2 separate regions of the Homo sapiens genome follow, and region 1 is linked to region 2. Evidence: fine-mapped expression QTL. A gene starts in region 2. The other region holds a variant in brackets. All regions are shown on one strand. Distances are between the middles of the regions.

Region 1 (5,375 bases), 27 kb after region 2:
ACAGTCTTGATGGCTTCCCTGCTTTTCCTCCCCTGATCAGCCCCCCTTCATGGGCACACATCCTTCCAACATGTGAGAGAAGTTGGCATGGTAAAAAATGAGTAAAATCAGAATGAACTCTTTCCATATTTTATTCAGGAATGGCATTTCACAGGTTCTCTCTCTTACTGATTCCAGATCCAAAGGGAGATATCGATCCATGGAAGATGGTTGCTCTCGGAAAATGCTGAGAAGTTTGCAAAAGGAATGGAAGCAGAGTTAACCAATGTATCAGGAAGCTTACACTTTCTCCTTTTAAACTGCTGTGCTGGTCTATTAAGACATGCCTAATACCCAAAGCTGAGGGGCAAAAGGGGAGAGAATGAAGTTTATGCGTCTGTGTCATAGAGAAAAGCTGCCAAAATGTGATTAAGCTTTTTGAGTTAGAACTTAACAAAATGCCTTTGCTACTGGTTTCCATGGTTGTCCAGTGAAAAGAGTGAATACATTTATAGGAAACACAAAAGGTGGTTTCAGAGCTTGGGCAGGATGGAAGACGTATTTCTTCTACTATTCGCTCCTGTGAGTTTAGTGCCACAGACCTGCTCAGGCATCTGGGAGATGCCGGTGGGAGATGCCAGGGCTGAGCAGGTTTGAATTTCTTCCTAAACAGGGAATAAAGACCTTGAGGAAGGAATATAGATATTGAGGAAGACCCAGCTCCTCACTAATGAGCTTACCTGCTTTTCTTGGGACAGCTTGCCTTAAAGTAGACAGTGCTGTCATGGGCTTCTGGATCTTAGAAAATGCTTCTCATTCTAGGGGATTTTGGCCATGGAGACCATCGCACAGCTCTTCTCCCTTCTCCTCTTGGCTGCCATCCCAGTAAACAGGTCCTTCCCAGAACCCACAGAGGAGAAAGGCGTTGGAGAGGTGGTAAAGATCGTTGGCGGGCTAGGTGGCAATGTTAAGTCCTGAAAAACGCTGTGCGTTGGGGAGTTTCTTAGAACACTTGTGTTACTACAAAGGAATACTTGAGGCTGGGTAATTTATAAAGAAAGAGGTTACTTTGGCTTGCAGTTCTGCAGCCTGTACAAGAAGCAAGGCACCTGCATTTGCTTCTGGTGATGGCTTCAGGCTGCTTCCACTCATGGTGGAAGAGGAAGGGGCACCAGTATGTGCAAATCACAACAAGGTGAGAGAGAAGGCAGGTGGGGAGATGCCAGGCTCCCTTTTAACAATCAGCTCTCATGGGCACTAGTAGAGTGAAAACTCACTTATTGCTATGAGGATGGCACTGAGCCATTCATGAGGGGGTCCACCCTCATGGCCCTAACACCTCCCTTCAGGCCTCACCTCCAACATATGAGTCCTATCTGTGCCCTTACTTTTTTGGAGTCAGCATCTAAAATAGTCACTGCTTTGCTCCAACTGGTGTCTCCAGTAACTTGATGGGGACAACCTTCATCTTCTTCCACCTGCTCCATTCATGAACCATGTCTCCTTGTCCTGAAAGGACCAAAGGGTTTCAATTTTCTTAAGCTGTGCCTCAGTTTCCTCATCTATAAAATGAGCATAATAGGAGTACGTACCTTAGTTTAAGAGGACTAAGTAGTTTATATGTGACCACATATTAACTGAACTCATTTCATATCTCCAACCACCTACACAACATCTTTATGTCTAACAGAATCTTAAGTTTATTGTGGCAGTATGGAAACCTTGATTCTCCACTTCCCAAACCTGCTCTTCCCTGATGGTTCCTCTTACTGGTTAGTGGCACTGTTGTTCACCCAGCTACTCTGGCCAAAACCTTTGCCTCCTCTCTTTTGCTCACACCCCACATCCAATCCCACAGGAGACTGGACCTCTTCTCGCCTCTCCTATCACAACCCTAGTCCAAGCCAGTAGCCGGTCACCTGGATTGTGCACTGGACATTTCCACTCTCCCTGCGCCCACCCTTAATCCCTTTACTGCTGCCAGAGGGACACTTTGAAATTACTAGCCAGCCCATGAGCCTCTACTTCCAATCTTCTAATGGTCTCCCACATTTACAGTAGAATCCACTGTCCTTACCAAGGCCAAAACATCCCACCTATCTGGCCCCTGGCTGCCTCTCCAGCCTCATCTCCCTCTTCTCTCACCATTGCTTTTTCTGCCTTAGCCACGCTGGCCTGACTGCCTCCAGCTCAGGGGACACCTTGCTGTCTCCACAACCTTGTGCTCCCTGAGCTGGATATCATTCTCCTGATATCTGC[G/A]TACTTCACCCATCTCACTTCTGGTACATCTCTCACCCCCTGGATACCTCACCTTAAAATAGTACCACTGGACCCCCTCTGCCATGTTACACTGCTTTAGTTTTCTCATACTTGCTTATTACTCCTGAAACAGCAATTTGTAAATTGTCTCTAGCACCAGACTGTAAGGGCGGTAAGGACAGGGGCTTTGAGTGTCTTGTTCTCTGCTCTGTCTTCAACTCCTAGATGTGTCTCTAACGTGCAGTAGGTCCTTAGTAAATATTTATAGAATGCATGAATGAACCAGTAAGTATAGTGCCTGGCACATGATTAAGTGTTGAAGAAGTGTTAGTAATTATTATGGGCATTACTCACACTGCCAAACTACTTCGTGAATTTTCCCAGGGGTAGGGAACTCCTCATCTTCATATTTTAAACAGAACATCACTTTATTGAGCTAGTACCATAATGGGAACTTTAACAACCATTACTTCATTTCATCCACACATCAGCCTTATGAATAAGTGTTACTGTTCCCACTTTGCACATGAGAAAAAGAAGGATCAAAATGTCAAATGACCACCAACTACTCCATTCAGGATCACTTATACGGTTTGGCTCTGTGTCCCCACCACAGTCTCATCTCAAATTGTAATCCCCAGGTGTCTTGGGAGGGACCTGATGGGAGATGATTGGATCATGGGGGCAGTTTTCCCCCATACTGTTCTCGTGATAGTGAGGGAGTTCTTGTGAGATCTAATGGTTTAAAAGTGGCAGTTTCTCCTGCGCTGTCCTTCTCCTGTCGCCTTGTGAATAAGGTGCCTTGCTTCACCTTCTGCCATGATTGTAAGTTTCCTGAGGCCCTCTAGCCATGCAGAACTGTGAGCCAATTACACCTCTTTTGTTTATAAATTACCCAGTCTCAGGTAGTATCTTTATAGCAGTATGAGAACGGACTAATATATTCACAAAGCTGGAGGAGGGAGTGCTGTGAGTTAAACCCATCAGTCCCAAATCCGTTTCTCTTTCAACCACTCCCAGCATTGGTTCCGGGAACCCCAGGCATGGAGCTCTCCTTCCTCAAGATGCCCATAGCACCTGCTTTTCGTATTTGATGAATCTTGCCTTGCACTGTCATCAGGGGTCTCTCCCTCCGCTCCATGAGTTCCTTGAGAGCCGAGACCAAATCTTACTCCCAGAGCACAGGGCTGGGAATACAGCAGGAGCTCAGAAACATCTTGACTTGGGCTAGTGTGAGGAGTGGGAGAAAAAAGGGGAGGATTGTGTGTGCATGTAAGAGTGGGTCCTTTGCCTCTTAAAAAAGTATCTACTGCAGCTTGTGCTGAATATGAGTGTTTGGAATCCTCAGTATGATCAGGGAGGGCACTCAGAGAGAAGAGCTGGAATGATCTATGTGAGGGTTCCCCATTCAGTGTCATCTGGAGCAAATAGTCTTCCCCAGAGTTTACAAGTATATGCAAGCCCAGGGGACACAAGAAGCCAAGGTAGCCAAAGTTCACCTACCTGCTATGACAGCCCCCTGGGATGAGTCTTCTCCTCATTTAATAAAATAAATTAGGAGGGCTGGATATGCCCTAAAATAATGGTTCCATAACTGCAAAGAAGCTGACTGTAACTCTGCCACCTGTTAGGAACAGGATGTCACTGTCACTGAAACAGAAGACTGAAAATTAGCCCATGCTATATATAAATTAGGAGGGTGGCGGGGGGGCGGGGAACTGGGAACATCTTGTTTTGACATTCAGCAATATTTTCAAGGCTCTCTAAAGAAACTTGGAAGAAAAGAATGTAAAAGAGTCCAGGACCTAAAGGGAAATAAGGACCTGATTTTCAATCACATTTTGACCTGAAAATGAAATCAAGGCCTATATTGTGATGACTTGAGTAGCTTGCTGTCCTACAGCTGCACAATTGAAGTGGTTTCATTGCTGTGAGTACCTTCTGCCACTCACTAGATTCTGGAATTAATCCTCTGCCAGGCTAAAAGCAGAAACAGCTACGGATCTAACACTTCCTAGGAAGAAGTATTTAGCAGAAGCAGTGGTGTTCAATGTGGAGGCATTTTAACACAGGGTTCCGGAAGGTTCATTTGCATCCTGCACTGACCCAGCACAGGGTCTGTAGTGGTCACAGTGGTTGAATTCCCACCATCTATTCCTTACCAAATAATCAGACTAAGCCAGTGGTTCTTCATGAGAGGCTATTCCCCTCCCCTACTAAGGTGACATTGGCAATATCTAGCAACGTTTTTAGTTGTCATATCTGGGGAGGTGCTACTGGCATCTCATGGGTAGAAGCCAGGGATGATGTTTAACATCCTACAATGCACAGGAAAGCACTTCAACAAAGACTTACCTGCCCCAAAACGTTAAGAGTGCCGATGTTGAGAAAACTTGGTGGTCTATGGGGTTTGATTTGCCAATGCCTGCTTTAAGAATGAGTGTAAGACTTCATCCCAGCAAACAGTCTTGAAGCAAAGTCTGTTGGAAGCTATTTGAGAAAGGTTCTCTCATTCTTAAGAAGAACCAGAAGAAACTGTCTCTTTTCTTTTGGCTGTTGCAGTGTTTGAATATGACTTCTGGACCTGTTGTAGCCACTTTGAGTCCCTGAAGGGAATAATTTTGAGAGCAATCCAGCCATATCCAGTAAAGCCGTAGGTGTGCATAACTTGCGACCAGCAATTCAGCCCATAGACATATGCCCTGGAGAAGTCTTTACACAAGTGCACCAGAAGACAAGTACACAAGTGTTCCTGGCAACATTGTAATACTGAAAACTCACCAATATTTGTTTGTGAATAGGCAAATGGATAATTAAATTGTTACATAACTATTAAAAATAAATATTTAGGGCCGGGCGCGGTGGCTCACGCCTGTAATCCCAGCACTTTGGGCGGCCGAGGCAGGTGGATTGCGAGGTCAGGAGATGAGACCATCCTGGCTAACACGGTGAAACTCCGTCTCTACTAAAAATACAAAAAATTAGCCGGGCGTGGTGGCGGGCACCTGTAGTACCAGCTACTCAGGAGGCTGAGGCAGGAGAAAGGCATGAACCCAGGAGGTGGAGCGTGCAGTGAGCCGAGATTGGGCCACTGCACTCCAGCCTGGGCGACAGAGCGAGACTCCGTCTCAAAAATA
Region 2 (5,375 bases):
GCTGTTGTGAAGTGGTCAGCTGGGAAAAAAGGAACAAGTGGGGGCGTGGGGAGGTGACTGGCTGTGGCCTTTGTACCCTGGACACGAACTAGCAGCAGAAATAAATCCTGGTGCTTCCCCATCCATTTGGTTCTGTTTACCAAGCTCTTATTCTTTGCAAAGCAACCATATCTGGGGAAAGGAGGCAGGAAGAAAAAGGAATTCAAAGAAGTCTCACAAGCCCATGTGAGGTAGGCTCTGGGTGACAAGCTTGGGTACCATGGCTCTTTTTGTTGTAAATTGCCCATAGAATCTGAACTCTCTCTCTTTGGCTCAAACCCTGAGCCATGTCCCTTAAAATTAAACCCTTTCTCCCAAAGAAAAAGATGGAGATTCACATGGGGCAATAATAACACATCCCCACGGATCATCCTCAGGGGACCAGTAAAAGAAATGATGGTAAAAGGAAAGGTGATCACCTCAAGGAATTTTCCCTTGAGAAATTATCACCATGCTGAAGATCTCTGGTATAGCTGTCAACAGAGAAAAGCATCTGTCAAGCTGGCCAGGTGTTGACTAGCAACGCCAACAATACCCTATGCTTGTACCATTCAAGTCTCCCGCAGTCCAAGGCACAGGCACAGGCTTTCCTGTGCTTCACACCACGGGGCCAGGGGCAGTTACTCCATCTTTAGATCTTTAGTCCATGTAGCTCATGGAGCAATGTAATGGACAAAAAAGTTTTAAACAATGATGTCCTGGCATAGAAATTATGTAAATCACCAGGGATTTTATTCCTGTTCCCAGTGTATATTGGACTAAAATGTTTTCATTTAACATCTTTTGCTTTTTCTAATTTCATAACATTTACATCTATCAATTTTCCATTGATTTTGAAGTAGTTGAATGGGTTGAAATTGCAGCTTCAGTCACAGGCAAACTGGCACAGATTTGTTTTCAGACCAGCCACGTTCCTCCTCAGTGTTCTGGACAGAGGCCTCCTTGTCTGTTCTTCCAAGAGTCCCTATTTCTGCTGATGGAACTGCCTTCCTTGGAATTACACAGGCTCTTCACCTTGGTGTCTCCATGGACACCTCCCCTTTGTCTCTCCTTGGCCTCCTCCTTTACTCTTACTCCAAATCTAATCAGTGCCAAATCTGGAACTCTTCTACCCGCCCAGTGGTGCATTCCTTCCTCTCTGGTCCAGCCATGGCCACCAATTCTGGCCTCCCCAGCACCTGCCTCATTTCATGCTGGCCTCCCTGTCTCAAGTCTTGTTCCCTCCTTAGAATGTTTCCTAGACATAGCTGACAAATCAGTCTTCCAGAAAAAGTGATCATGCGATTTCCTTGTTCAATACCATTGAGGTCTCTCTCTCTCTCTCTCTGTCTCTCTCTCTCTTTTCTATTTTATTTTATTTTTCTGGTTCTTAGGAAGTGTGCAGAGGACTCTCCCTTAATGTGGAGAGAGAAAGTCCATACTCCTCAGTCTGTCCTTTAAAGCCTGGTCACATCCAAACAACTCAGTGTTAAATCCCACTGCTGCCTCTTATATCCCCAGTGCACCAACTACTCACTGACCTCTGCACTTGCTTAGAGCAAGTCCACTGTTACTTACGCCTGCAATGCCCCTCTGCTACTGGCTCTGTATATTCAAACATTCCCGTTTTCAAGGTTCAGCCGAAATGTCCAATCTCCAGAAGCCTTCCCTGGCCGCCTTAGATGAAAGGGATCTTTCATTCCTAATTCTATGATGAGAGACACTTTTCTTTGCTAGGCATTGCTGTTCCTCCCCCGACCCTCCCTATCTCCAACACATGACCTCCCTCTGCTGGGAATTTCCTGGGGGCCGCCCTCTGTGACTCTCCCTGCATCTTCCACAGGGACCCAGCAACCTGCCGTGCCCACAGCAGCCTCTGCACAACACCCAAAAGTTTGTACTAGCTTAGATGTTCACGTTTCTCTTCTCCCACACCCTGCTCATCAGGTAGGGAACTTTCCCAGTGAAAACGGAACTTCCCTACTACAATACCAAAACAAGTCAATGTTGCCACTTGATCAAGAACTCTTCCATTTTTGAAATATTTCCTAATGAGCTCAGTTGTCACAGACTGCACCCTGGGGACAGGTCAGACCAGAAAGCAGAGGATGTCACCTGGGCAGGACCAGGGCTGCTCCACGCTGGTGACCACAGGCTGGGTGTTTTGTGCCCCCGGAGGGTTAGGACACACAGCAGCCAGTCGCAAAGGGCGCAAAGGACCAGCGCTTAGTGGGCGGGGCGGGCAGGGGAGAGTCCCGGGAGTTGTACCCTGTTGAATCCCAGCTCCAAACTTTTCCCTCCGTCAGCGCGGAGCCCTCCACCAGCCAGGACTGGCTGACGCCGTGATGCCACAAAAGCCGGGACCGGAAGAGAAAAATGCGTGGGATGGGGAAGGCAAAGGCGGTTATTTTCAGAACTTCGGGGGCTCCCGGGCCTGCCCTTCGGGTTCCCGAGGATGCGAGGCCAGCGTCCGGCCGCCCGCGGGTCCGGACCGGCGCCTGCCCGGGACCGGATGGGCAGCGATTGGGATGCAGATGCCGCTCTGGTGCTGATGCTGCGGCTGCCGCGTAGTGACAGCCGCTCCACCACCCACCGCGCCGAGCTGCGGCTCCGCGCCCCCGGGGGCGCCCGGCGCGCCTGGTCCGCTCCGGCCCCGGGCAAGGCCTGCGGGCTGCGGCGGGCGGCGGGGCCCAGGCCGCTACTCACCCGGAGGGTTGACCGCCGCCGGGGTTGCCATCTTGCTCGGAGAGGATAGGCGCCCGCTTGGCAGGGGCGCGGGAGGGGCGGCGCGGAGCCCGGCGCTCAGCCCCGGGGACCCGGTCAGGCCCAGGCGCCGCCGCCGCCACACAAAGGACGGCGCGGGCGGGCGGCGCTCCCTCCGCTCTCCCCGCCGCCGCGGCCGCTCGCCGTCCCCGCCTTTCTCTCCTCCTCCTCCCCCTCCTCGGCCTCCTCCTCCCGGTTCAGCCTTTGTCGCGCGGCGGGGGGCGCCCGGCCCGCGGCTCCCCGGTCAGAGCGGTAGCACCGCGAGACTTGGGGCTGCGGACGGCGGGACCCCCAAGTTGGGCGCCGGCGACTGGCGGGGGCAGAGGGCCGGGCGCTCCCTCGGGCTCGCGCAGGTGCTCGGGCCTGGCCGGGCTGGGACCGCAGGCGCCTCTCCCGCGCTCGCCTAGCCCGGGCTGCCCCCGCACGCCCACGCCCCAGGTGTCCGGGCGCGCTTTACCCAGGGGCGCCGTGCCCAGGCCAGGAGGCCAGGGCGGAGCGGGTGAGGGAGAAGCCCATTTAGATTCAGAGGGAAGCCGGTCCTGGGAGACGGCCGCGAGGAACAAAGGCGCCCCAGTGCTGCCCACTTAGCATGCCAGAGCCGCGCTGCTCGGCTCCCAGGCCGGGGACACGGCCCGGTGTTAAGCGGAGGGTGCCCGACCGCGGGAATTCCTAAGGCCACGCGCACCTCCAAGGCCACCGCCGCACACAGCTTCGGAGTGCACAGTGCACACGCCCAGGCACAGGCAGCCGGCCCGAGAAATTGTGAATGTCTTGGCTTTGAGTAAGGCGCTCATCTCTACCCTCCTTCCATAATGACTGCCGTTGATTATTACTTGAGGGCGCTGCAAGGGCCTTATTTACACCACCAAGTTGAGAATTTAAAAAGATTTTTTTTTTTAAATAGGTTTATCTGCGTATCCTGGCGAAGTTTGGATGCAGAGAACTTGGAGCTGTTGTTTTCTACCAGACACTAGGATCCCTGAGAGAGGTAATGGCCCCTAGGAAGGACACGTCACCATCGGGGTCCCCTGTAAAGGTTAAATGGAAGAATAAAGACATCCCAGGTGAACGCTGAGAAGGGCAAGTTGGTCCCTAAACGCAGATAATGTTTGCAGAGACATCAAACTGTCTTAAATCCTTCCAAGGAAGCATTTTCTGGAGGGCAGAAAATTTGGGATGTATGTTCAAATAAGCATTTTCTTCGGGGAGTATTTGTCACTACTAATCTAATAGTCTATCAGTTCTACAAATGTTGAATGTCTGCTGTGTGCCAGGCACAAAGCCAGGTGTTGGGCCTACCATGGAAAGGAAGAAACAGGAGCTCTGTTCTTCTGGTTTGGGGGGTAGAGTGGGGAAGAGTGAAACAAAGTATCTGCACTCAAGAAGCACACAGCTCCCTTGGGGGCTTAGGGCAGAAGCCCTGAAATTGGCATCTCCAGCCTGTAGTCACTAATGAATGAATGAGGGCAGAGAGGAGGTGGAGTGATCAGGGAAAATGAAAATTAGGCTTTGAAGACATGAGTAGGACAGGTGGAAAAAGAAGACATTTCAAGTAAAAAATAAAGCAGGTGTGCACCCAGCCACAAGATAGGCCAGGCCCAGACAGAGAAACCAGGGTATCAGCTATGGCCCGCTCTTGTGCCCCGTATCAAAGTTGACTGTTCCTGATTCCAACATCAAGCCAAATGAGAATTCAGCCTCTCTTCTACATACCCCGAAAAGCAACACACTCAAAATACCAACTTAATTAATGTATAACGTATACTGGACTGAAGATTTCTTAAGGAAAGTAAAAGAGGAGGCTCTCTTCACTCACTCCACATCAAAAAAGGTAAAACTCCATCTCAGATATTTCTGCTACCCAGAGTCCCTTCTGGATCCTTCTCCCCACAGGCAGTTCAATCTCTGGTGGCCCATAAATAGCCCATAAATAGCACTTGGCATCACTGCCCCCTATCCCACGAGGCTCTTTTATTCTCCAACTTTCCACACCCCTTAGAAGGAAGCAAGTTCCTCTCCTTGGTGTTTATGTATCAGTTTAGCATTTCAGCCAGGACCCATGGCTCATTTTGTCTCCAAATACAGTTCTAATATCATCCCTAAAAAATAAAATATGAGTGAACATGACTCTTACGCACACACACATTTAACCATACAAATTTGTTGACAAGTTTTACTTTCTTACTCTGCTGTTGTGTTCTGCCCATTTTTCTAAATGTTACTCGGCTGATATCTTTAAAACTGGATCTTGCTCAAGCTTCCTACTTCTTGCACTGGTCCATTGCAATAAAAGACAGGCGACACGTGGACAACTGCTAGACACTTCCCAAGTCTGGAGTCGGCCGTGCTGTGGTTTTTGGTACGTAATAAATACGTTTAGATTTTCACAAAGGAGACATTTCATCTTCTCCCCCAGTCAGTGTATTTCAGAGGTAGAAAGGACCTTCGACATCATCCAATTCTGCCCCTGGAGTTTGCAGATAAGGAAACTGAGGCTCAGGGTAGCCAACGTCATGCAGCTTAATAGCCAGACAAGACTTAGAACTGGGCTACGCACAATACTGGGATTTGGTGGCTGGAGTTGGGGAGCGGTT

What was found. PIP is the estimated chance that this variant, and not a neighbour inherited with it, causes the effect. A credible set is the group of variants that fine-mapping cannot tell apart.
Region 1: its variant is the best candidate, but not a certain one, in a credible set for the expression of ARNT2 in lung (TOPMed, PIP 0.52).

Annotation. Positions count from the first base shown.
Region 1 is chr15:80,374,956-80,380,330 of GRCh38, reverse strand. The region is part of intron 3 of ARNT2-DT (ARNT2 divergent transcript); the gene reads left to right. Among named protein-coding and RNA genes, the nearest start is that of ARNT2-DT, 27 kb to the left of the region's middle. The variant G/A (reference allele first, on the strand shown) is at 2,239.
Region 2 is chr15:80,401,896-80,407,270 of GRCh38, reverse strand. It overlaps ARNT2 (aryl hydrocarbon receptor nuclear translocator 2), which reads right to left and starts at 2,889. Exons shown (of 19, transcript NM_014862.4): 1 at 2,725-2,889. The coding sequence starts at 2,755. ARNT2-DT (ARNT2 divergent transcript) reads left to right here and starts at 3,075. Exons shown (of 6, transcript NR_184070.1): 1 at 3,075-3,280; 2 at 3,686-3,769. RefSeq lists an enhancer at 2,958-3,458.